Linked DNA regions of Homo sapiens. The protein of the gene in region 3 interacts with the protein of the main gene of each other region in a biochemical or structural test. Each region holds a gene or a part of one and is shown on either strand. Other genes may lie near its edges. The genes, in order: CCND2, ARHGAP17, ABL1, HERC1, MBP, BCAR1 and MAPT.

The links.
Region 1: the proteins of ABL1 (region 3) and CCND2 form a complex in vitro, tested with the Homo sapiens proteins (one study listed by BioGRID).
Region 2: the proteins of ABL1 (region 3) and ARHGAP17 form a complex in vitro, tested with the Homo sapiens proteins (one study listed by BioGRID).
Region 4: of the proteins of ABL1 (region 3) and HERC1, one has a biochemical effect on the other in vitro, tested with the Homo sapiens proteins (one study listed by BioGRID).
Region 5: of the proteins of ABL1 (region 3) and MBP, one has a biochemical effect on the other in vitro, tested with the Homo sapiens proteins (one study listed by BioGRID).
Region 6: of the proteins of ABL1 (region 3) and BCAR1, one has a biochemical effect on the other in vitro, tested with the Homo sapiens proteins (one study listed by BioGRID).
Region 7: of the proteins of ABL1 (region 3) and MAPT, one has a biochemical effect on the other in vitro, tested with the Homo sapiens proteins (2 studies listed by BioGRID).

Annotation. Positions count from the first base shown.
Region 1 is NC_000012.12:4,283,762-4,287,261, forward strand, and holds part of CCND2 (G1/S-specific cyclin-D2), read left to right. Parts: intron 1-3,500. UniProt on the Homo sapiens protein: Regulatory component of the cyclin D2-CDK4 (DC) complex that phosphorylates and inhibits members of the retinoblastoma (RB) protein family including RB1 and regulates the cell-cycle during G(1)/S transition.
Region 2 is NC_000016.10:25,005,370-25,008,869, reverse strand, and holds part of ARHGAP17 (rho GTPase-activating protein 17), read left to right. Parts: intron 1-3,500. UniProt on the Homo sapiens protein: Rho GTPase-activating protein involved in the maintenance of tight junction by regulating the activity of CDC42, thereby playing a central role in apical polarity of epithelial cells.
Region 3 is NC_000009.12:130,852,254-130,855,753, forward strand, and holds part of ABL1 (tyrosine-protein kinase ABL1), read left to right. Parts: intron 1-1,810; coding exon 1,811-1,984; intron 1,985-2,547; coding exon 2,548-2,843; intron 2,844-3,500. UniProt on the Homo sapiens protein: Non-receptor tyrosine-protein kinase that plays a role in many key processes linked to cell growth and survival such as cytoskeleton remodeling in response to extracellular stimuli, cell motility and adhesion, receptor endocytosis, autophagy, DNA damage response and apoptosis.
Region 4 is NC_000015.10:63,638,449-63,641,948, forward strand, and holds part of HERC1 (probable E3 ubiquitin-protein ligase HERC1), read right to left. Parts: intron 3,196-3,500; coding exon 3,022-3,195; intron 1,998-3,021; coding exon 1,704-1,997; intron 329-1,703; coding exon 263-328; intron 89-262; coding exon 1-88. UniProt on the Homo sapiens protein: Involved in membrane trafficking via some guanine nucleotide exchange factor (GEF) activity and its ability to bind clathrin. Acts as a GEF for Arf and Rab, by exchanging bound GDP for free GTP.
Region 5 is NC_000018.10:76,986,284-76,989,783, reverse strand, and holds part of MBP (Golli-MBP), read left to right. Parts: intron 1-871; coding exon 872-907; intron 908-1,256; coding exon 1,257-1,289; coding exon of another isoform or gene 1,290-1,694; exon of another isoform or gene 1,695-2,081; intron 2,082-3,500. UniProt on the Homo sapiens protein: The classic group of MBP isoforms (isoform 4-isoform 14) are with PLP the most abundant protein components of the myelin membrane in the CNS. They have a role in both its formation and stabilization.
Region 6 is NC_000016.10:75,234,625-75,238,124, forward strand, and holds part of BCAR1 (breast cancer anti-estrogen resistance protein 1), read right to left. Parts: exon of another isoform or gene 3,470-3,500; coding exon of another isoform or gene 3,467-3,469; intron 2,721-3,466; coding exon 2,559-2,720; intron 2,375-2,558; coding exon 2,258-2,374; coding exon of another isoform or gene 2,204-2,257; intron 1,363-2,203; coding exon 265-1,362; intron 1-264. UniProt on the Homo sapiens protein: Docking protein which plays a central coordinating role for tyrosine kinase-based signaling related to cell adhesion. Implicated in induction of cell migration and cell branching. Involved in the BCAR3-mediated inhibition of TGFB signaling.
Region 7 is NC_000017.11:46,023,554-46,026,193, forward strand, and holds part of MAPT (microtubule-associated protein tau), read left to right. Parts: intron 1-402; coding exon 403-618; 3' UTR 619-1,563; coding exon of another isoform or gene 1,564-1,635; 3' UTR 1,636-2,640. UniProt on the Homo sapiens protein: Promotes microtubule assembly and stability, and might be involved in the establishment and maintenance of neuronal polarity.

The DNA.
Region 1 (3,500 bases), on a different chromosome or scaffold from region 3:
GGCATCGTTCCTTGGCTCGGGTGAACTGCATCTCAATGAATTGTGGAATGTGCTGGGTTAGAGTTGCCAACTTCTCTCTTCCATTCGCTGAGTGTTCATGGGGTTCTTTTCATTCCCCTGTGGGGCTGCACTTTCTCCCAGTTCTGCAAAGCAGCAGGAGGCTTTGGGGACTCGATGATGTCATTTCTGGGACACATACACAACTGGATAGTGACAGATTCTCCAGGAAGCACAGAGCCCTCATTCTTCCTGGCCTGCTTGGCCTGCTCCCTGCATCTGCCTGCAATCCAGGGATGCTGGGCGCCTTTCTCCTCATCCCTCCAGACGCTGGAGAGCATCTCCAGTCGGAACTCCCCACCACAGTCCTGCAGGAAGTACTAGGAGTGAGAGCAGAGGAGGGGCAGGTTGGGGAGGATGCTGGCTGACATTCATTGCTTACCTTGAACCAGGCACTGTGCTTTTACAAGGATTATTTTAAGTGAATCCTCAGAACAGCACTACAACGTGGGTATTGCTGTTGTCATTATTTGCAGATCAGAAAATGAAAACTCAGAGAGGTCAGGTAACTTGCTCATCTTCACACACTTGGTAGGTGGTGGGATGGAGATTCCACCTCCTTCTGATTCCAGAGCTAATACTCTGAACCAGTGAGCTGTGTTCTCCAGAGGTCTGCTTTGGTTGGAGGGGAGCTGGAGCCCTAGGCCCTGGGACGGCCTCTGTTGCCCATGGCAAGGCGTGTGGCTGCTCCTGCTCTCTTCAGATCTCCAGATGCAGCAACCTGGAGAAAGGCCCTCCTGGGTCTGGTGGGGACTGGGGCAGGAGTGGAGGCTGCCCAAGCTCCGTGCACTCCACGTTCCAGCTTGGAGCTTTTTGAGTCTACTCTCCAAATCCTTCCCATCTCCCTGAAGAGTCTTCTGAGAAGTGTCTCAAATGCTCCTCTTCACTCAAGAGCCTCCTTTCTTTTTTTTTTTCTTTTCTTTTTCTTTTTTTTTTTTGAGACAGTCTTGCTCTGTCACCCAGGCTGGAGTGCATGGCACAATCTCTGCTCACTGCAACCTCCAACTCCCGGGTTCAAGTGATTCTCTTGCCCAAGCCTCCAGAATAGCTGGGATTACAGGCGCGTGCCACCATGCCTGGCTAATTTTTGTATTTTTAGTACAGACAGGGTTTCACCGTGTTGGCCAGACTGGTCTCGAACTTCGGACCTCAGGTCATCTGCCCACCTCGGCCTCCCAAAGTGCTAGGATTACACTGTGAGCCACTGCGCCCAGCCTTCAAGAGCCCCCTTTCTTTGAGAAGTTTCTTCAGAAGTTATCCATATAGTAGTACAGACCTAGCCATTATAGCACACCATCCTCTACTATCTAATGCATTGATGCCCAGCCTTAAGAAGTCTGAATATTGTACGTTTTGGGGGGAGTCCTCCATGCTGCCTGGAACAGGGAGGAGCACATTGTCATGAGTCGATCAGAATGGATCGCTGATCGGTTCATTGCCTCTCTCTCTGCTGCAGGAGGAAGGATCTCAGGAAGTCACCAGCATCTCACCTCTCCAGGTGGGCAATTAACGATGGCGAGGGCACACCCTCACCCCTGAGCGTGCCTTCTGCACCAGCATATTGCTTGTTGGCATTTTTGATCAAGAGACTTAACAGACTGCTGAGAAATTTGTACCTGGTTTTTATTTGTTAAAATAATATTACGTACAAATTTTACAAACTCATCTGTGTTTCTCCCACCTAACAGAACAGCTTTTATTTTCCGTGCATCCTTCCAGTTCATCCATAGGCATATATGTATGTATTTACCCATGGTTGTAATCTTCATCGTCGCATGCATGCATGCAATTTGGTTTTCCGCTTCCTTCTTCTGAGTGGATATTGTGACCATTTCTCCATCCTGTCATAGCGACAAAGCTGATGGTTTCCAGGAATGGCTGCATTGGGTAGGTGGAGCTTTCCACAGTTGAGGGTGGGGGTTGGCTAATTACAGCTAGGAAGCTAGTGCACAGATGAAATGATGTTTGATTTTTTTGTTTTTCTCTCTGTTCAGTATCCCCTACCAGTAGAGAGGGGGATGTCCTTGAGAGTGGTCCTGGGGCAGCCCTGGTGCCACGGGGAAGTAGCGCCGCTCTGTGGAGAGGGCTGCTTTGTGAATTTGCCGGCTGGTAGACACCGTGATCCATTCTATTGTCTCCTCATTGTTCTTCTCCTTGGGAGTCATTCCCATTCCAGATCCTCAAGTAAGAGCAAAGTAGACCTGTAAGGCACCTGGGAGGTTATCCTGCTTACTATCTTTAAACTCTTGACCTAAGCCATGTAGGAAGAAACACATTTTATAACACAACTCAGGATACTTGTACAAGTATATCAAACTGATACAAAAGTTTCTCCGAACAATATTTACTCTTAACGACATACGGTGAGCCTGATACTTTCTATCCTACTCTATTTGGTTAAAGGAGAACAACAACAGAAAGTGCTGGTCACGACCCACAAATGCATTTCATGACCCATTAATGAGTTGCAGCTAGAAGTTAGAAAAACACTTATCTCACCCAACCCGTTATTAGACAAATGGGAAACCAAGCCCTTGGAAAGAGGAAGTGACTTGCCCACAGTCCCACGTCTGGACCTAGCTGGAGGGCTGATGTTGCCTCAGTATTTGACTAACCTGGAGGAGAGGTGGGGCATGCTCAGGGATCCCGAGGAAGATGCTCGTCTTCTGTGTAGCGGGCAACAGAGGGCAGCACGGCCGCCGTCCTCGTCTCCAGCGGCGTCTCTCCTCTGGCTGTGGGAACACACTGCTCCTTTGGTGCCACTCTGAGCTGCTGAGAGGCAGTCAAGTTCATGCACATAGTGCTCCCCAATTCTGTGGGATTGGACAGTGTCCCCAAGAGGACTCCCCTGAAAATCTTCTTAGTAAAACAAAAAGGGAGGTAGAGTCTCCCTGTGCAACCGGTGCACCTGTTCCCCCTATGCCTGCTGGCTTCCAGAAGTTCATTCGTATGCCAATAATAAGAGTTGGTTTTGCTAGCAGTGGGACAGCAGAGATGGGCATGTGTGAGGTGTGCTTCCCGGTCTGAGGCCTATGGCAGAGGGAAGGGAGGGCCGGGGATACTTGCCTGCCTCTTCCCTGGCAGATGCTCCCACCCGGGCCTTTGTGGGCCCAGGGCCATGGGCCGGCTGCCCCGCTTGTGTTATGAATGTCACAGGGGGGAGCTAACGAGGTTATTGGGCAGAGAAACACTCTCCTGTGACCCATGTGGAAGAGACCTACAGCAGAGCAAGAGGCAGGGAGGCTGGCTTTGTCACACTGTTCATGGCGACAGAGAAGGCGTAGGAGGGGCGGGTGGACAGCAGGCGTGGGCGCAGCACCATTATATACGTCCCTCAAGAGGTGGAGATGGTGAGAGGGCAATGGAGAAAAAGCCAAGGAGACAGGCAGATGGCCAGGTTTGCTCTGCGTTCATGATGGGAGGGGAGGGCTGTGCTTGGCTCA
Region 2 (3,500 bases), on a different chromosome or scaffold from region 3:
AAAATCCATTCTTTACTGGGGGGAAGAAATGAACTCTAAAACCATAAAAATGATGAACCAGTAGAAAATTTTCATCTGTAAATTTGAACCATAAAAGGATATGTTCATTTAGCATCATTTTTATATGTGTAAGCGGCATGTTACGCTATTATGGAATTGCCTTTGTAGCAGAGTGGACGAGGCAAAACCTTCCAAGTTTGATTATGGCCTAGGGCGCTGCAGTCAGTACGTGCACCGTGCATTTTTGTCAGACCACAGGATGTTTCACCTTTATCATTCTATTTCAGTTTCTCAAGTGTAGGTAGATGCTGTAGTAACTAGTGAAGTACAAATCCATGTAAAAATGTTAAACTCTCATCTGTTCGCTGTGTTTGTATTTTCTTAAAGGTAGGGATTAAAAGTGTAATAGGCCCACAGTCCCTTATCTGGAATCATTGGGCCAGATAAGTTTTAGAATTCAGAATTTTTCAGATTTTTCTAAAAGTAATAATATGCATATATTGTTGTTATGTAATACTTCCAGTGGGGTCTGGGACAAAATCCCATAATCAAACATTAGTATAGCAAAATATATATACATATATTCCCACTGAATGGATATGCATGAAGATTATGCATAGTTTAATATCAGTTCAGGTCAACTTTTATTGCCAAATAAGTTACAAAAAAAGATTTGTTTTTTAGAACTTTTTGGATTACAAAATGGTGATAGGGATTGTGGACTTGTCTTACTTTTAGTTATATACCTATTGAGAGTCTGTTAAATTTTTTTACTGTAAATAATATTTCCCATATTCCCAAAGGTTGGAAACCACAATCACATAAGCAGGGGTCACAAACCGAAGTGCCAGGTTGGGTAAAATAAATAAGTGAAATGGGAGGCGGGTATAGGACAGTAGGGAATGTGGGGACTGCAGTGAACTGGTGAATACATGTTCATTCAAAGGGGAGAGCTGCTCTTCAGTTCTAGCCACTTGTTGCCATGGTGAACGTGGGAGTAGTGAAGCTACATCTTCCATTTTTGATGATACTCCAGAATGCTGATTTTCATGTGAAGTTTCTTGATATTTAAATGTTGGCAACTAAAAAGAAAAAAACCCACTGTTGGCCAAAGAAAACATCTGAAAGCATTATCTGGCTGTGGGCTGCCTGCTTTCATTTGTAGTTTAGAGACTAATGCTTGTGGTATGAAAAGTTGTCAGTGAGCCGGGTGCAGTGGCCCATGCTTGTAATCTCAGCATTTTGGGAGGCTGAGGTGGGAGGATCACTTGAGACCAGGAGTTTGAGACCAGCCTGAGCAACATAGCAAGATCCTGTCTCTACACACGCAAAAAGTTTAGCCAGGCATGGTAGCATGTGCATGTAGTCCCCAGCTACTTGGGAGGCTCAGGTGGGAGGATCGCTTGAGCCTGGGAGGTCGAGGCTGCAGTGAACTGTGATCCTGCCACCGTGCTCCAGCCTGGGTGATGGAGTGAGACCCTGTCTCTAAATAAGTAATTTGTCAGTGGCATTCGTAATGAACTACTTTCTTGAGATATGGATGGGTGCATTTGCTTTATTGTTATTCATTATGCTTTACATACACACTATATGTTCTTTGCACATAAAATATTTCATAATAAAAATCTAAAGAAGTTGATAAGCACTTTATTTTAGCATTGCCTTATTTTCTAGCCATTAGGAAATTTTCATCTGTAAATTTGAAACTTTAAACTTATTTATCTTGGAAAAGGGACTGAAAGCCCCACTTCAAAAATAGGAGCCCTCTTTTTAAAAAGTAGGAGTTAAAAGAGGTTAGATTGTAATGTTCATTCCTTTCCAGGGCCATAGTGATCTGAAGTAACATTGGGTATTCACTGTTATATTGCGACAGAGAAATGTCCTCGATCTCCTTTCTTCTCAGACCGTTCCCCTGGGTGATCTCAGCCCCATAACTATCACCTCATGGTGACAGTTTTATGCCTCCAGCCCTGGGGTCTCTTTATCCCTAGAATGATGCTATCATCTCTCTCTTGAAAAATCTCTGCTGACATGGCCTGATAAAATTGAACCCATGAACTTCTTCCTCAAATTGGCTTCATTTCCCTCTATCTTCTAGTCTGTGAGTCACGAGACTTTGGCCTGCAGGGTAAATCCAGCCCACCGCTTGCTTTGTGAAAAAGTTTACTGGAACACAGCCACTCACTACAGTGGCAGGGTTGAATAGTTGCAACAGTGACCCATATGGCCTGCAACGCCTATGGTATTTATCCTCTGGCACTTCATAAGAAGCATGTGACCCCTGCCCTAGGGCATTAAATGCCCTCACACCCTCCCTAGTCACCTGTCAGTCCCATTCTTTTTCCTCCATCATCTCAGTCAGGTGAGGAGACTGGAAATTCTGCCTCTTTGATTATCTTTTTCTTTTTTTTTTTTTTTTTGAGACGGAGTCCCTCTCTGTCACTCAGTCTGGAGTGCAGTGGCATGATCTCGGCTCACTGCAACCTCTGTCTCCCGGGTTCAAGCGATTCTCCTGTCTCAGCCTCCTGAGTAGCTGGGACTACAGGCGCACACCACCATGTCCGGCTAATTTTTTTTTTTTTTTAATTTTTAGTAGAGACAGAGTTTCACCATGTTGGCCAGGCTGGTCTGGAACTGACCTTGATTATCTGTTGACTTCATCTTTGCTTCCCAGAGGCCATCCTTCCTGTTACCTTAATTAGGTGCTCATTATTTTTCACTTGGAGTCAAATTTGTCTTCCAGTTGGCTTTGCTGCCTTGAGCTGGCTTGAGCTGGATTGTATCTACAATTCCCCAACCTTCTGTTTGACATGGTCGGTCACCATTTTAATGATTATAGCTGCTCACCTCTAAATTACTTTTTCATGATGAATTCTCTAGAGGTTAGAATCACTAGATTTATAGGAAATTAATGTTTATATCATGACAGTATTGCCAGGTTGTCTCCTAAGATGATAATGCCGTCATTTAGTTTGTAGTGCAGAAAGTGATGTTGCGCAATAATGTGTGTCATTATGCATGACATGATGAATATCACATTTCACCATCACCTTAGTTGCATTAGATATTGTCCTTAAAAAATTTGTTATCTATTTAAATTTTTTCCACTAAGTTCAAAATGAATGTGTTCTTACATTTGTATTTCTTTATATGAGTTTTCTCTGTATGTGTCATTTGTTTGTCATGGAATTAACGTTTAGTTATCAGTTTCATTGCTCAGTTACCAATTTAGTTCAACAAATGTCTCTTGAGAACCTGTCAAATGATAGGGGCTGGGGTTAAAAATATAATTGATCCCTGGGGACTTGAATGTGGAGACAGAGCTACAAACAGATAATCTGAATGTAACCAGTTTTATCTATTCTAGCAGATCTTAGGTGCTGTTAATGAAATCTTAATGCCATTCTTTGATGTATTTATGTACTTTAATATAAACAAGTTAGCATTCTTGTTCATAGATATGTTCCTCAACAGATACAGTGATGAAACCTTGCACATTC
Region 3 (3,500 bases):
ATCTCAGCTCACTGCAACCTCCGCCTCCCAGACTCAAGCGATTCTCCTACCTCAGCCTCCTGAGTAGCTGGGACTAGTAGCTGGAACTACAGGCGCCCGCCACCATGCCCGGCTAGTTTTTTCTATTTTAGTAGTGACGGGGTTTCACCGTGTTGCCCAGGTTGGTTTTGAACTCCTGAGCTCAGGCTCAGGCAATCTGCCTGCCTCAGCCTCCCAATGTTCTAGGGTTACAGGCATGAGCTACTGTGCCTGGCCCAGTTAGTGATTTTTAAATTGTAGTTCCTTAAATGAGTATTTTGGATTTCACTCCACAATGTTCTTCAACTGTAAGATCTACTTGAGGTTATTTGATTTGCTGGTTTGCAAGAACTCGTCTACACGTTGTCTTTATCACAAAGAAATTCTGGAGCGTTTGAGCCCTGTTCAAAAAAAAAAGGCAAGAAGAAACTTCAGGAACAAATAACCTATTTGACCCTGTAATGAATAATATTCACACATTTTCTAATTTAAGAGCTGTTGATTGATTTCCAACTTTTAGAATCTGTTTCAGACAAAACATGGAAGTTTAGTAACAGTTTTTTCTATTCTGTAATAATAATTGCCACAAGGTTAAAAAAAAAAATTTACAGAAGAACATATTTGAGGGTGGTCGTGGGGGCAAGAAAGCTGGAAGGACGGGTGGGGTGTGTTAATAGCCTTGTCTTGTGAAGTAAGTCCTCAGAGACGCTGTCCTAGTTGGAAGAACAGGCAGTGAAGGTGTGCGTCTGTTACGGAGAATAGGACTCCAGTGATCTAGCTGGTACTTAGAGAGGTGGGGGTGATCACCAAAAAAACAGCTCTGCCTCTGGGAGCGGAGAGGACTGGGATAGAAAGTATTTGTCTTTCATTTTAAGCCCTTCTGTACGATTTGACTTTTCTTTTTTTTTTTTTTTTTTTTTTTGAGATGGAGTCTCACTCTGTCACCCAGGCTGGAGTACAGTGGCACGATCTTGGCTCACTGCAACCTCCGCCTCCCAGGTTCAAGCAATTCTCCTGCCTCAGCCTCCCAAGTAGCTGGGACTACAGGCACCTGCCACCATGCCCGGCTGATTTTTGTATTTGTAGTAAAGACAGGATTTCACTGTGTTGGTCAGGTTGGTCTTGAACTCCTGACCTCATGATCCACCCCCGGCTTTTTTTTTTGACACGGAGTTTCTCGTTACCCAGGCTGGAGTGCAGTGGCGCAATCTCTGCTCACTGAGACCTCCACCTCCTGGGTTCAAGCGATTCTCCTGCCTCAGCCTCCTGAGTAGCTGGGACTACAGGTGTGCGTCACCATGCCCGGCTAATTTTTGTATGTCTAATGGAGACAGGGTTTCACCATGTTGGTCAAGTTGGTCTCAAACTCCTGAACTCAGGTGATCCACCCACCTTGGCCTCCCAAAGTGCTGGGATTACGGGCGTGAGCCACCATGCCCGGCTAAAGCAAGAAATTTTCATTGCATATTTTAAGCAAAGGCAAATGCATATGTGGATAGACTGTTTTAATTTGACTAAAGTCATATTGAATCCATGAATTTTAGAAGCTCAAACTATTGGGGAACAATAATTACCACCTTGGAGTGAAAATACTTAATTTCCACAAGATTTAGTAAAGGAAGAGTTTTTTAAAAACCACCTTAATGATAATAGTATGTACAGATGTTAAGAAATGAAATAGGAATGTGTAATGTTGGAAACACAAATATTTTTGCTTCTGAGAATAAAACTAATTTTTTCTCCCAATTTTCTCTTCCTTTTTCTTTTTTCTGTTCCCCCCTTTCTCTTCCAGAAGCCCTTCAGCGGCCAGTAGCATCTGACTTTGAGCCTCAGGGTCTGAGTGAAGCCGCTCGTTGGAACTCCAAGGAAAACCTTCTCGCTGGACCCAGTGAAAATGACCCCAACCTTTTCGTTGCACTGTATGATTTTGTGGCCAGTGGAGATAACACTCTAAGCATAACTAAAGGTAAAAGGGTTGTGGGCAGCTAGTGGTGGTTGCAGGAGATAGAAATCTGGGAATTGCGGTTTGACCTACCACCCTTTGCTCGTTAAAGGAGCAGCTTTGAAATCTGGACTGCAGGGATATCCAAAACAACAACTGCATGTTTCTAAGGGAGTCGACTCTCCTTAGAGGAGTTCTTGTACAATAGCCCTGGGCAAAAACAGAACTTGCCCTATTTTTTATACTGAAAAGGACAGCTGGACAAAATACTGAACGCAATTTTTCCCCTAAGAAAAAGCATTATTTCCCTAAAATGTCTTATATTAGGAACAGAGCACTTGAATAAACATAATTGATTTATAAAAACTGAGGCTATACACTTACCTATCTGTTCAGTACAAACAGGAAGCTTCAAATGTAAACGTGAATTCTCATACACTTATAAATGCATATCTTTATGTGGACTTGTTAAAATGAAATTGGTATTTAGGAATTTGGAGATTTTTAGTAGTTACACAAGAATCAATGAAAAAGAACGAAGCTGGTTTCCAAAGCTGATATGTCTGATTTGGTTCCTTTCTTCTCAGGTGAAAAGCTCCGGGTCTTAGGCTATAATCACAATGGGGAATGGTGTGAAGCCCAAACCAAAAATGGCCAAGGCTGGGTCCCAAGCAACTACATCACGCCAGTCAACAGTCTGGAGAAACACTCCTGGTACCATGGGCCTGTGTCCCGCAATGCCGCTGAGTATCTGCTGAGCAGCGGGATCAATGGCAGCTTCTTGGTGCGTGAGAGTGAGAGCAGTCCTGGCCAGAGGTCCATCTCGCTGAGATACGAAGGGAGGGTGTACCATTACAGGATCAACACTGCTTCTGATGGCAAGGTAGGGGACCCTTGGCAGGGGGCGCTGATGGGCCCAGGGCAGGGGAACCAGAGGTCCTGCTGTCGGATTGATAAATTATTGCAAGAAAGCTCAACCAAGAAGATGTTTAAAGAATCTTTCAGGTGGGAGTCATTCCATTAGCCTTATGAAGACCCTTTATTGAGGATCCGTTCTGTGATATTACAAGTTCCTGGGACTGGTATGATTCTCTTATTGTCTTGCTAGAGTTTTGTTGTTAGCAAGTTACTTAAAATAGGAGGAATATCTGTTGGGTTTTGGACACATTTTTTACAATAAGATTCTTCCTTTAAAAAAAATATTTTATAATGATAGAAATCATCCCCAACGAGAAAAATTCAAATAATAGATAACCTTTCTTAGAGCGAAAGACCACTTTACTATCCCCTCCCCCACAGACGCCTGGCACGTGGGCTTCTTCCTGCGGATGAACACATTCATGGAGAGGTGTGTGGACATACGTGCATACACGCATGCAGTTTTCAGTGAAAACCGGGATCAAACCCACAGCTTACCAAACCCAAAGTGTGGTGTTGTAAGGGAGGTGGCCTATATGATTTTGTGGTCTTCATATAAATAATCCTTAAGAGTCCATAAAGAGAAGGGAGGAGTTAACATTGACTGAGGTATTGCTATAAT
Region 4 (3,500 bases), on a different chromosome or scaffold from region 3:
CCATTACATTTCTTCCAGCTTCTGCCAGCTGTCCATGCCTACCAGCACCCCATAAGTAGACATCACATTTACCTCCCAGGTGCCAGTCCTAGAAAACCACAATCATCTCAAAATTAGAGTCATCCATTCACTCAAACAGCCATGTACTACGTACCAAGTGTGTGCCAGCCTGTATGGGAGACACCAGGGCACAAACACACAAGCATTTAGAATCAAAACATTGACTGAGAACCATCATACAGTTATCTTCATCTTTACTGACCTCAGGTCTGGAAGTTGCCCAAGACATAATTTGTTCATCCATGCCGTTAATCCATTTACTGTTATCCTGAAAAACAGGGGGTACATAATGATCAATTCTGCTTAGGCAAGATGCACCTGCTCTTAACCACAAAGTCCTCTTCTAATCATTAAGTCTTATTTCCAAAAAAGAATATGGTAATATTATGATAAATTAAGAGCAGTTTTATAATTATGTCAAACTTGATTTTATGCACTGTCAGTATTTCCCTTTATTATAAACACTTTCACTATCACTATCACTATGGCATTGGTGATTCAAAGCTAGCCATGTGTTTTCTGAACACCCACAGGTACAAGGTCATGTGGAGGACCCCACACCCCTGTAAACTCTTTGTGTAGCTGTGGGCAAATTACTTCATCTTTCTGGGCTTCAGCTTCCTCATCTACAAAATTACAGAGTTGGGCCAAATGGGCTTAGAAGGACATTTTCTGATTAAAATATTGTATACTTTTGTGCCACGTGACATTTCAGTCAACAACAAACTGCATGTGTGAAGATGGTCTCTTAAGATTATAAAACCTTATTTTTATTATATCTTCTATGTTTACATACACAAATACTTATCACTGTTACAAATGCCTAGAGCATTGAATACAGTCATATTCTGTACAGGTTTGTAGCCTAGGAGTAATCAGACTATACCGTATAGTCTTGTTGCAAGTAGGCTGTATCATCTAGGTTTGTGTAAGTACTATACACTCTATGATATTCCCAGCGTCAAGATTGCCTAACAATGCATTTCTCAGAACATATCCCCATCATTAAGTGATGCATAGCTACAGTTACATAATTTTACTTAATTTATATTTGTCTGTTTCATATTGTATCAATGTTTATCCAAATGTTTGTATACATAAATCTTAAGTATACAAAGAGGTTGTTAGATCATGTGCTGTCCTGTAGTCTAAACAGGTATTTTATCTATGTCACAGTTTCTAGAGTAGACACTCTCAAATACAAACAGAATGAAATGACAATTAGAATGCTCTTCTATATTTTATTTGATGCTAATTAAAGACATGATTGAAATGCCAAATAAATTAGAATCTATATGTGGCATATAACCCACAAGATGACCAGGAAAAGATGCTAAGATATATACAACTAAAGCACTAACAAAGTACCTATGGACAAAAGAAAATGAGAAAATATGGGACTATGTCATTGAGAGGTGGCAGGTTTACAAGAGTTCAACAGTGCTTACATTATCAATTCCTGTCACTATGGAGGCCTGCCATCAGATTGAAAGTGACTATCTGAAAGAAAAATATTTTCCATTTCTCTTAAGGGTATCCTTCTAGCCATGCATACCAGCAAAGACTTATTAGGGGTCTGCTACATGCCCAATACCCATGATAAAATCTCAGCTGCAAATAATAGCAGCTCACAGTACATTTACCATTAGAAATACAAGTTCATCCTCTGGAACAGGTTCTAGATCTGGAACGGTAAAAGATTCTGGAAACTGGGCTCCATTGGTCAGGGCTTCGGCAGCTTTTATAGTGGTTGAGAAACATTCTAACCAGGCCCATTCATTTGGATTCCAGGATGCAGGGTCAGGGAGACAGTTCTGGTGGTGTGGTGGCACTGGAGGGTTACACAACAGCTGATCCAGATGAAGTCCCACAGCAAGGGAAGCCAAGCATTGCATATAGGGGCTATGAACAAGTTGGTCACCACAAACCACATGAGGCTAAAACAAAATACAAGGATATAATATGTCAAAGAGTTTGTGCCAAATATTCTAAATTAACCTACCGTAGTCTGAAAGTCTGGAATCATATTTTTCAAGTTTACTGTTTAAGCTTTTTGCTAGGAAATAATTTTAGATTTAGAGTGAGTTGTACAGATAGTACCGAGGATTTCTGTATACCCTTCGCCCAACTTTATCCAATGTTAACATCTTATACAACCCTGGCACATTTATCAAAACTAACAAACTAACATTGGTACAATACTAACTAAACCACAGAACTTTATTTGGTTTTCCTCAGTTTTCCCATTAATACTCCTTTTCTGCTCCAGGATCCAATCTAAGCTATCACACTGCATATAGTACATTTTCATCATGGTTTTTCTTGATTGGAAAAAAAAGCAGGTAACTATTTAACCACAGAGATCTGCTCTTCTCACTTTCCTCCTTTATAAGAGAATCCTGGTAGCCATCAAAGGAAAAGCAAAAAGCTGGAAGACAGGCTACTTTAGGATCACTGTCTGGACAAGTTCAAACGCTGCAATTCCTCATTCCAGTATTTAATGACCCTACTCAATTCAACATAGCTCTTCCACTAAATTTTCCACAAAGATTTATCTAATAAGTGGAGACGATATTCAGTCTGATACCCGCATCCATCCCTATCCCTCAACTTTGGAATGGCCAAGCCATATAAAAATAGATATATGTGTGGGTCAGAAAAGGGAAGATATTCTGCTGCATAGGTATTTTAAGAAGCTTTGGAGTGAATAAATAATCTGAAAAGCAGTAATACAAACTTGGTGTTTGTTTCTTTATTTTACTCTGGTGAAAATAAAGCAAGAATAGGCTTAGGGTTGCTGAACAACTCTTTTAGGCATGACTTACCTTCATTTGATTCTGCCCAAATAGCCCCACTTATTATCCTCAGACCTCATGCTTTTAAGGGATAAGTTCAAGGCTATAATCACATTCCAAAGCACCAGGTATCTGTGTATCTCTAGGAGTGAGTGTAATGAGTTACCTTTTCATAGGCATACTGCTCCTGAAGCATCATGGGGAGCCGCTCCAAAAATGCTCTCATGCAGGGAGCCATGTTCAATCCCAGAACACCCTGCTGTTTCAATGCTGTCCTACAGGTTGCCAAAACATGATTGGCAGCTGCCCATTCTGCTGTACAATTCACGACCAAAACATCCTGGTTGAAAATAAATCATGCCACATAATAAATTTGTTTAAATAAAAAATAATGCTATCACCATTTAATCTGCGAAATTCCTTCTAGTAACTGGGACATCTTTGCTTTTTGGATATTTTATATCCAAAAAGGCTATGCTTTTAATGCCTATGGAACTTCAAAATATCCTAAATTTTGTCTAAGTAAAAAATAATGAGAAATAATAAAATTTGTGAACTACCTCTGATTAGCTGGTACTTTTTAAGGAAAAAATGTCAATAATTAACTATTTCTTCAGAACCTGCAGAATAAGGCATCTACTATAT
Region 5 (3,500 bases), on a different chromosome or scaffold from region 3:
GCGCTTCCCGACTGTATCTGCCACGGATTGCACCGTGCGCTCCGTGCGTTCTCCAGAGAGCTCACTTCTCTTGAGATTAGGCTCCCATGTAACGCTTAGCCTAAAAACACAGGCTTTGCAACCTATGGAGAGTGCTTGCCATGGGCTGGGAGCGGAGGGGGCAGCAGAGAGAGCACAGGGCATTTTTAGGGCATTTTTCGGGCAGCGAAACCGCTCTGTCGAGGCTGCCATGGTGACTGAAGACCACGCACTTGTCCAAACCCACAGCGTGCACAGCACCGAGAGAGCCCTAAGGCAGTGTTGCTAATAAGGGAAACTGTTCGGGGTATGTGGAAACTAATTTCTGCACAGTTTTTCTGTAAACCGAAAAGTGCCATGCAAAACGAAGACGATTAAAAACAAGAACAAAACCACAGGCTTCTAATTCCAAGATCTCAGTGCAGCAGACATTTTATGCTCGTATTCGATAAGTGCACTTAGGAGCTGCAGACCTGGGGACATCCCCTTGGAAGCTCTGAATGTCAGAGGGCCCGCTACTCCTAGCCCCGGAAAGGGCTCACGGTGAAGCAAAGTCCGCCGCCTCCCTCAGTGTCCCAAGATGGGCCCATTCCCCAGCTACGGAGCCTCTGGGAGGTGTTTTCCATCCTCTGAAACACTTCCTGAGTGCTCTGGGAGATCTGCATCATCTAGAATATTTTCAATCTCAGGTCTATACTTCTTCACCAACTAGGACAGAAGTGGGGAGGCTGGGCACCCGGGTGCTTCTGGCAGCTGATGGATGCTAGCCACCCTCAGCAGGCAGGAGCCCGTTAGGAAATGGACGGCGGCACAGGGCTCCCAGTGCAGCCCACGGTTCTCTGTGTCTTTCCAGGTGACGCCTCGCACACCACCCCCGTCGCAGGGAAAGGTAAGACCTTGGAATGTTTTGATTGATCATCACTTTTCTGATAGACCTTCTCTAAAATCCCATAATGTACCAAAGAGAGAGTTAGGCTCCGAGCTACCAGAATCCATCCCAAAACGTGTTGCCAGGCAGCTCCCAAGTAGAACAGGTCGGCAGATCCATGCACCCCTCCTGTCCCTCCCGCACCTGCACAGCCGCTGTGGCCCTGAGCCTGCGGCCCCCCTCGGAGCTCCGGGTGGAACCTGTTTTTACCACCTCAGCTCCACTGTGCTTTGACTGTGTTTCCTGTTGATTGAAAGGACTTTCCCTTCACTGACCACCATGTCATTATTTCTCTGTCTTCCTCATGCAGGGGAGAGGACTGTCCCTGAGCAGATTTAGCTGGGTAGGTGACGAACGCACTTCCATCGGCTTCCTCTTCCGTCCCAGTCCTCACAGCCCCGCAACTTTTGTGTTCTGCTCTGTTTCGGTTGCTTCCTGGCCTCCTTTTCTCTCCTCTCGAGACCTCTCTGCCCACAGCTGGGATCGGGCCGCCTTGTCTTCCACTGGGGAAATGAAACGTGGTCTTCCCTTCCGGAAGGTCTGGTCTCTTGCTTCTGTGCCGGGGACCCAGCCCTGCAAGGCCAGATCCTCTTCTCCCAGAGGGTTCCCAGGCGACGTGACTGGTCTCCCTCCCAGGGAGGGAGCAACACCACGTCCGAGAAAATGTTTAACTTCCTCCAACACAACCAGTGCGAGAAGCCCCAGGAACCCGCATGTGGAAGTGGGACTGGCTGGCCCGTCTCAGTGACCCCAGATGCTGACACTGGGAAAATGATTCTGCTGATGAACAGAAAAAGAGGCTAAATAGAGTTGCTCGATTTATAATAACCTCATTAATCCAAAGATTTTTGTTTTGTATGTGTTTAAATAATAATTAAAACATAGATATCAAGCCATCCAGAAAATCTTCCTTAGGAATTTTAGGCTGGTTAATACTGAAAGCAAACTTTCAAGGAAGGTTTAAAATGGCCAATTTGAACTTTCTAGTGAAAAAATTTGGTGTCTGAGCCAAATTAAAATGCCAATCATTATATTCTAACCAAACTTACAGACTTTAGTTACTAGCAAATACCAGATATGATTCTTACTGTATAAAAGTTATAATTTTAGAATAAAATGGAGGAATAACCACCAACGTATTGTAGATAGGTTGTGTCTGTCTCCGAAACTGCAATGCTCTCATACGCTAGAACAGAGCCTACCTACACTTTCTGCTCAATTAATAAGCATCATATAAATGAATGAATACATTTTAAAAGAAAAACAACAAGGAGAAAGAACAGGAAGAAAGAACAGGGAAAGAAAACAGAAGGTGGGGAAGAGGAAGGAAGAGAGGGAGGAAGGGGCAGGGTACTTGAGAGACCATGAGGATCCCAGATCAGTCCCACACATGATTACACTGAATTATGAACTAAGATATTTACCGAAACGTTTTCCATTAATGCATATTTGACTTGCTTTTTCTGACCTAATGAATTTGCAAAACGATGACAATCATGTAGCAAATGTACATGGACTAGTACTCACAATTAATTTTTTATTTTCTATGCCAGCAGGAGACAAAGATGATAGAAGAATGAAATTCATTTTTGACCCAGAAATCTTATTTTAGCTACTGCTTTATCTGCTCTTAATTTTCTAGGAGTGGACTTTGGGGCCGTCGTGCCGGATCCTCCCTGAATGTGGAGCGATGGGGGGTTGCACACAGGCCGTTCTGCCCCAGCAGCTAACAAGAAAGACCCTTGCATTCCTCCCTGCATCTCTCCCTTTTGGGTCCTACTAATGTCTGTTGAATTTCTCTTTTTTCCAAAGCAAAATCCTTCTCTGCATTTTGTCTGCTTGTCTGTTTCCCAGAGCCGCAGGACTCTCTCCTTGTCTGGAGTTCCAGAGAGCCCCCACTTTCTCTTTCTAAGCTGTGTTGTGTGTTTCCTGGTACATTCTAGGTTCCCCAAAGATAAACATGACTAAGGATTGGAAAGGAGGAAAGGCCGCGCAGATTGTTAATCTGAAAGTCAATCCCCGGATTTAGCTCTCAAAAATGCTTTATTTTTGGAGAAAAGCAATAGAGTAAGACAGAAGGACTTAACGCTTGCAGGGAAGTGGCTTTCTGCCATGTAGAGCCAGGCTGGCAACCTGCCCTCTGCCATCAGGGAGTGAGCATGAACCTGGAAACCTCTAGGACGCAAGAGCGAGGCTGGCTGTCCCCTCGTGTGCAGTGCTTAGACCTTCTTGCCACACATCCCGTCCCTCACCTCACTGGATAGCCCCCGAATCAACTGTTCACACGAAAGCAGCTGCCTGGTTCTGAGTGGCCATGCTCACTCCCAAGCACAGGCTGAATGAAAAGAAAACTGTGCAAGTAGCTTGTATGGTGGGAAGCCCCCAGCAGAGGCTGAGGGTGCAGCCAGGTGCTCTGGAAGCCTTGAGGCCTCTGGTGTCATCTTCCTCACCTCTAAATAAGAGATGGGCTAGGTTGGTCAAGGTCCTCCCTGTCCTAAAACACTTTAATGAAATGGAAGAAAGGCTGCAGGCTGATAGAGGAGGGACAGTCTGG
Region 6 (3,500 bases), on a different chromosome or scaffold from region 3:
CATTTCTGCAGATCTGTCTCCCCACACAGAACAGCAGAGTCACCGCTGCTGGTCACCAGAGATACCAGCCCGAGGGACTCAACGAAGGGCTCGATGACATGGCCACCCTAGCACATGGGGCCAATGTGGGGTGAGGGAGGTCAAAGTGAGAGGAGGGTGCAGGGCCTTGCCAGGGACCAGGCCCCAGCTGAGAACAAATCTCCCCCTAAGCACAGGAGCCCAGCGTGGCAGAAGAGGAGCCGGGGCTGGGCAGGCGGCACCCACCTGTAGGTGGACGTAGTCATAGTCCTCCATCCAGCCCCCCTCGCTGTTCTCGTACTGCCCATCTGGCGAGTCCTGGGAGGTGAACTTAGGGGGTGAGGGCAGGGGTCGTGACTGGATGCTGCTGGTCTTGTCAGTGGGGTTGGGGTGCAGGGTGCCACCCCCCTCAGGCCCCGGGGCAGTGGCCTTGGTCCGTCTGAAGAGCAGTGAGGCATTGCCGTGCAGGAAGGAGGCCAGCTGCTTGGCGTCCTCGGGCACAGCCCGCGAGCAGGCCACCAGCCGGTCCAGGTCCTCAAGGGTGGCTCCAGAGCCTCCCCGGCCAGCGTCGAGGGCCTGACCATGTGCCACCAGCGTCTGGTGCACGTCCTCCATCTTCTGCAGCTGCCGGCTAAGCTTGGCATGCAGGGCACGGTCAGATGTGTGGGCAGCATTGCCCACCGCGCTGCGGGCAAACTCCAACAGCTCGTGGACGGCACTCTGGACAGCGGCCACAGCAGCCTGCAGGTCCTGCACCAGCGGCTCCTGTGGCTCAGAGGGGCTACGCCAGCTCCCAGTCGCACCGGCGCTGCCTGCCAGGTCCAGAAGGTGGGCAACGGTGGCGCTCACACCCTGCTGCAGCCGTGCCAGGGCCTCCACAGCAACTTCCAGCTCCAGGGGTTCCCGGCCCGGCCCTGCCACCTCCAAGGAGGACGCAGACTGGCTGCTGCGTGTGCTGCCGGTGCTGGAGGCCGACAGGCGCTTGCCCTCTGCCGGGGCTTCACGTTCAGCTGGGGGAGGCACCGCATACACACCACTGTCGACCACGCCACCATCAGCCACCTCAGGAGGAAGCACCCGTTCACGGGGCACATCGTACAGGGTGCCCGGGCCAGGCCGCCGCAAGCCAGGGGGCACGTCGTAGAGGTCAGGAGCCGGGGGCGGCACGTCATACACGTCCTCGGCCGGCGGGGAGTCTGGAGGGGGCGCAGCCAGTACCAGTGGGGTGCGGGCCGGGTCAAAGGGCTTGGCCTTGGCGAAGGCGGGGGGCACATCGTAGGTCTCCTCACGCAGCAGTGGGCCATCGGGCACATCCTTGCTCACCGATGGAGGAACGTCGTAGACCTGGGGGACAAGCGGTGGTCAAGACTGTCCATCTGTCCATCTGCCCACCCCAGGGACTGGGGGCAGCACCCAGCCACACACACACACACACGTACACACATACAGACACACACACAGAGGCACGCGCACACACACAGGCACACATACAAATGCAGAGGCACGCACACAGGCACACACACGCGCACACACACTCGCAGCCCTAGCACACACATCCTTCACAATTCCTATCCATGACAGCTCTGGGACGAGCCGGCTCTGGAGCCAGGTGACCACCCCTGTGCCTGAAGGTGGGAGAGCTTCCTCCCAAAGAATTGCATGTGTTAATTCACATAATTGTGTCACTGCAGACACTCACTGAAAGGTTAGCTGTGATACTGCCACTGCCACCACCATCATATCATGATTTCATCACCATCACCGCCGCTGCCACCTCATCACCACCATCACTGTTACCACCCAGCACCACCACCACGTGTGAACTTTCTACTCTGCAGCAGGTGTGCGACTGAGCTCTGTGTGTATTATCAGGGGACCAAATTCTGGTTTGCCCAGGACAGTGCTGGTTTGTCCCTGATGCCCCCACATAATTACTAGTCCCCCCTTCACTCTTGGAAGTATCCCAGGTGAGATGACACATCCCGTGGTCACCTTGCGGATACCCTCTCAGGAGCTCATGGAGAAGGCCTCGCAACAGGCGGTTCTGCCGACAAAGAACCTGAGGCTCAGAAGACAGCTTGATTTCCTCATCTGTCAACCATCCAGAACCAGGGTCTGGAGCCAGTCTCTTCCTGCCCGCCACCCCCAGCCCTGCAGACACTGGTCAGCACCCCTGTGCACACACCCAGACACCCCACAGCCTCAGCCTGGCCCTGGCATTGCCCTGGCATTTGCTCACTGCGTGGTGGTTGGACGGTGGCAGGCCCTTCTCCACACTGGGGGGCACGTCATACACCTCCAGCAACGGGTCTCGGCCATTGGGACCCTTGACAGCCATGGGGGGTGTGTCATACACCTGGGGCAGAAACAGTGCAGGGTTAACGGCGCCAGGGCCACTTGGGGGAATAGGAAAGGTGGGAACCCCGCAGCACCGTCCCCAGGCCTGGCCGGGGCTGAGAAGATGCAGCTCTCGGCCCAGGGCCAAGCAGAGGCACAGACTTGCCGCCCTGCCCTCCCACCGCTGCGCACCCCACACCTACCTCCTGGCCATACTGGCTGGGAAGCAGCCCCCGAACCGGGGGCACATCATAGATGTCCTGTGGCCCCGGGGCCAGCAGGTGTCGCGGGATGTCGTACTCGTCCTGCTCCGGCTGGGCGGCCTCGTATACATAGCCCTGCCCCACGCGGGTGGGCACCACCACCTGGGGGCAGAGAGCCGACTTCACTGCTGCCCTCAAACCAGCCCTTAGGGAGGCTCCACTCACACCTGGGAGCCACGTCCTTTTAGGAGGTGGGCAGGGCACACCAGGTGGAAGGGACGGGGCTCCCCAAGGATGCCAGTTCTCACCCCCTCTGCACCATCTGACCTTCCTCTAGCAGAACGCAGTGCCAGGTACGGCAAGAACTCTGGGTTTTATTCAGAGCTGCCTCGTCCTGGGCCAGGACACCAACGTCTCTACAGCCTGCTGACCCAGAAGGCTCCACAGAGGAGCATGGGTATGAGCTGATGACACCGGTGGGGTGAGGGGCTGAGGCCCTGGCTCTGGAGGGCACTACCCACAGGCAAGGAACCCCCCGTTACTGGGGCGCCTAGCCCCACAGGACAAGAGGCCACGTCGGAGGCCTGGGAGTCTGCTGCCCACACCACCTAGCTGTAGCCTCCTCAGAAGGGTTGGCCCAGCAGGGGACTGCATCCGGCCCAGGACCAGATAGAGCCTAGCACCCCCTGCCCCACAGCACAGCATGGGGAGACTCTGGAGGACAGGGCCAGAGGGGCAGGTTGGGTGTGTGCTGGGGGGCGCAGCAGCTGGGACCAAGGCCCCCTCCCTGCCGCGCCTGCCCCGGGGGAGCTGCCTGCAGCAGGTAAGATCCCCAGCGACCTGAAAGGATGAGGCCTAGTGGGGGAAGTGGGTCCAGGGCCAGCCCTCCCCTCCCCAGGTGCTCTTACCATGACCCAGAGCCCAGGGAAGCCAAGGCCCGCA
Region 7 (2,640 bases), on a different chromosome or scaffold from region 3:
TCCTGGCCAGGCGCAGTGGCTCACGCCTGTAATGGCAGCACTCTGAGAGGCTGAGGCGGGCAGATTGCTTGCGTCCAGGAGTTCAAGACCAGCCTGGGCAACATAGCAAAACCCCGTTTCTATTAAAAATACAAAAAATTAGCCAGGTGTGGTGGCATGCACCTGTAATCCCAGCTACTCGGGAGGCTGAGGTGGGAGAATCACCTGAGCCTGGGAGGTCAAGGCTGCAGTGAGGTGAGATTGTGCCACCGCACTCTAGCCTGGGCGATAGAGCAAGACCCTGTCTCAAAAACAAACAAAAAACAGTCCCTGGCACTCTGGGCCAGGCCTGGCAGGGCAGTTGGCAGGGCTGGTCTTTCTCTGGCACTTCATCTCACCCTCCCTCCCTTCCTCTTCTTGCAGATTGAAACCCACAAGCTGACCTTCCGCGAGAACGCCAAAGCCAAGACAGACCACGGGGCGGAGATCGTGTACAAGTCGCCAGTGGTGTCTGGGGACACGTCTCCACGGCATCTCAGCAATGTCTCCTCCACCGGCAGCATCGACATGGTAGACTCGCCCCAGCTCGCCACGCTAGCTGACGAGGTGTCTGCCTCCCTGGCCAAGCAGGGTTTGTGATCAGGCCCCTGGGGCGGTCAATAATTGTGGAGAGGAGAGAATGAGAGAGTGTGGAAAAAAAAAGAATAATGACCCGGCCCCCGCCCTCTGCCCCCAGCTGCTCCTCGCAGTTCGGTTAATTGGTTAATCACTTAACCTGCTTTTGTCACTCGGCTTTGGCTCGGGACTTCAAAATCAGTGATGGGAGTAAGAGCAAATTTCATCTTTCCAAATTGATGGGTGGGCTAGTAATAAAATATTTAAAAAAAAACATTCAAAAACATGGCCACATCCAACATTTCCTCAGGCAATTCCTTTTGATTCTTTTTTCTTCCCCCTCCATGTAGAAGAGGGAGAAGGAGAGGCTCTGAAAGCTGCTTCTGGGGGATTTCAAGGGACTGGGGGTGCCAACCACCTCTGGCCCTGTTGTGGGGGTGTCACAGAGGCAGTGGCAGCAACAAAGGATTTGAAACTTGGTGTGTTCGTGGAGCCACAGGCAGACGATGTCAACCTTGTGTGAGTGTGACGGGGGTTGGGGTGGGGCGGGAGGCCACGGGGGAGGCCGAGGCAGGGGCTGGGCAGAGGGGAGAGGAAGCACAAGAAGTGGGAGTGGGAGAGGAAGCCACGTGCTGGAGAGTAGACATCCCCCTCCTTGCCGCTGGGAGAGCCAAGGCCTATGCCACCTGCAGCGTCTGAGCGGCCGCCTGTCCTTGGTGGCCGGGGGTGGGGGCCTGCTGTGGGTCAGTGTGCCACCCTCTGCAGGGCAGCCTGTGGGAGAAGGGACAGCGGGTAAAAAGAGAAGGCAAGCTGGCAGGAGGGTGGCACTTCGTGGATGACCTCCTTAGAAAAGACTGACCTTGATGTCTTGAGAGCGCTGGCCTCTTCCTCCCTCCCTGCAGGGTAGGGGGCCTGAGTTGAGGGGCTTCCCTCTGCTCCACAGAAACCCTGTTTTATTGAGTTCTGAAGGTTGGAACTGCTGCCATGATTTTGGCCACTTTGCAGACCTGGGACTTTAGGGCTAACCAGTTCTCTTTGTAAGGACTTGTGCCTCTTGGGAGACGTCCACCCGTTTCCAAGCCTGGGCCACTGGCATCTCTGGAGTGTGTGGGGGTCTGGGAGGCAGGTCCCGAGCCCCCTGTCCTTCCCACGGCCACTGCAGTCACCCCGTCTGCGCCGCTGTGCTGTTGTCTGCCGTGAGAGCCCAATCACTGCCTATACCCCTCATCACACGTCACAATGTCCCGAATTCCCAGCCTCACCACCCCTTCTCAGTAATGACCCTGGTTGGTTGCAGGAGGTACCTACTCCATACTGAGGGTGAAATTAAGGGAAGGCAAAGTCCAGGCACAAGAGTGGGACCCCAGCCTCTCACTCTCAGTTCCACTCATCCAACTGGGACCCTCACCACGAATCTCATGATCTGATTCGGTTCCCTGTCTCCTCCTCCCGTCACAGATGTGAGCCAGGGCACTGCTCAGCTGTGACCCTAGGTGTTTCTGCCTTGTTGACATGGAGAGAGCCCTTTCCCCTGAGAAGGCCTGGCCCCTTCCTGTGCTGAGCCCACAGCAGCAGGCTGGGTGTCTTGGTTGTCAGTGGTGGCACCAGGATGGAAGGGCAAGGCACCCAGGGCAGGCCCACAGTCCCGCTGTCCCCCACTTGCACCCTAGCTTGTAGCTGCCAACCTCCCAGACAGCCCAGCCCGCTGCTCAGCTCCACATGCATAGTATCAGCCCTCCACACCCGACAAAGGGGAACACACCCCCTTGGAAATGGTTCTTTTCCCCCAGTCCCAGCTGGAAGCCATGCTGTCTGTTCTGCTGGAGCAGCTGAACATATACATAGATGTTGCCCTGCCCTCCCCATCTGCACCCTGTTGAGTTGTAGTTGGATTTGTCTGTTTATGCTTGGATTCACCAGAGTGACTATGATAGTGAAAAGAAAAAAAAAAAAAAAAAAGGACGCATGTATCTTGAAATGCTTGTAAAGAGGTTTCTAACCCACCCTCACGAGGTGTCTCTCACCCCCACACTGGGACTCGTGTGG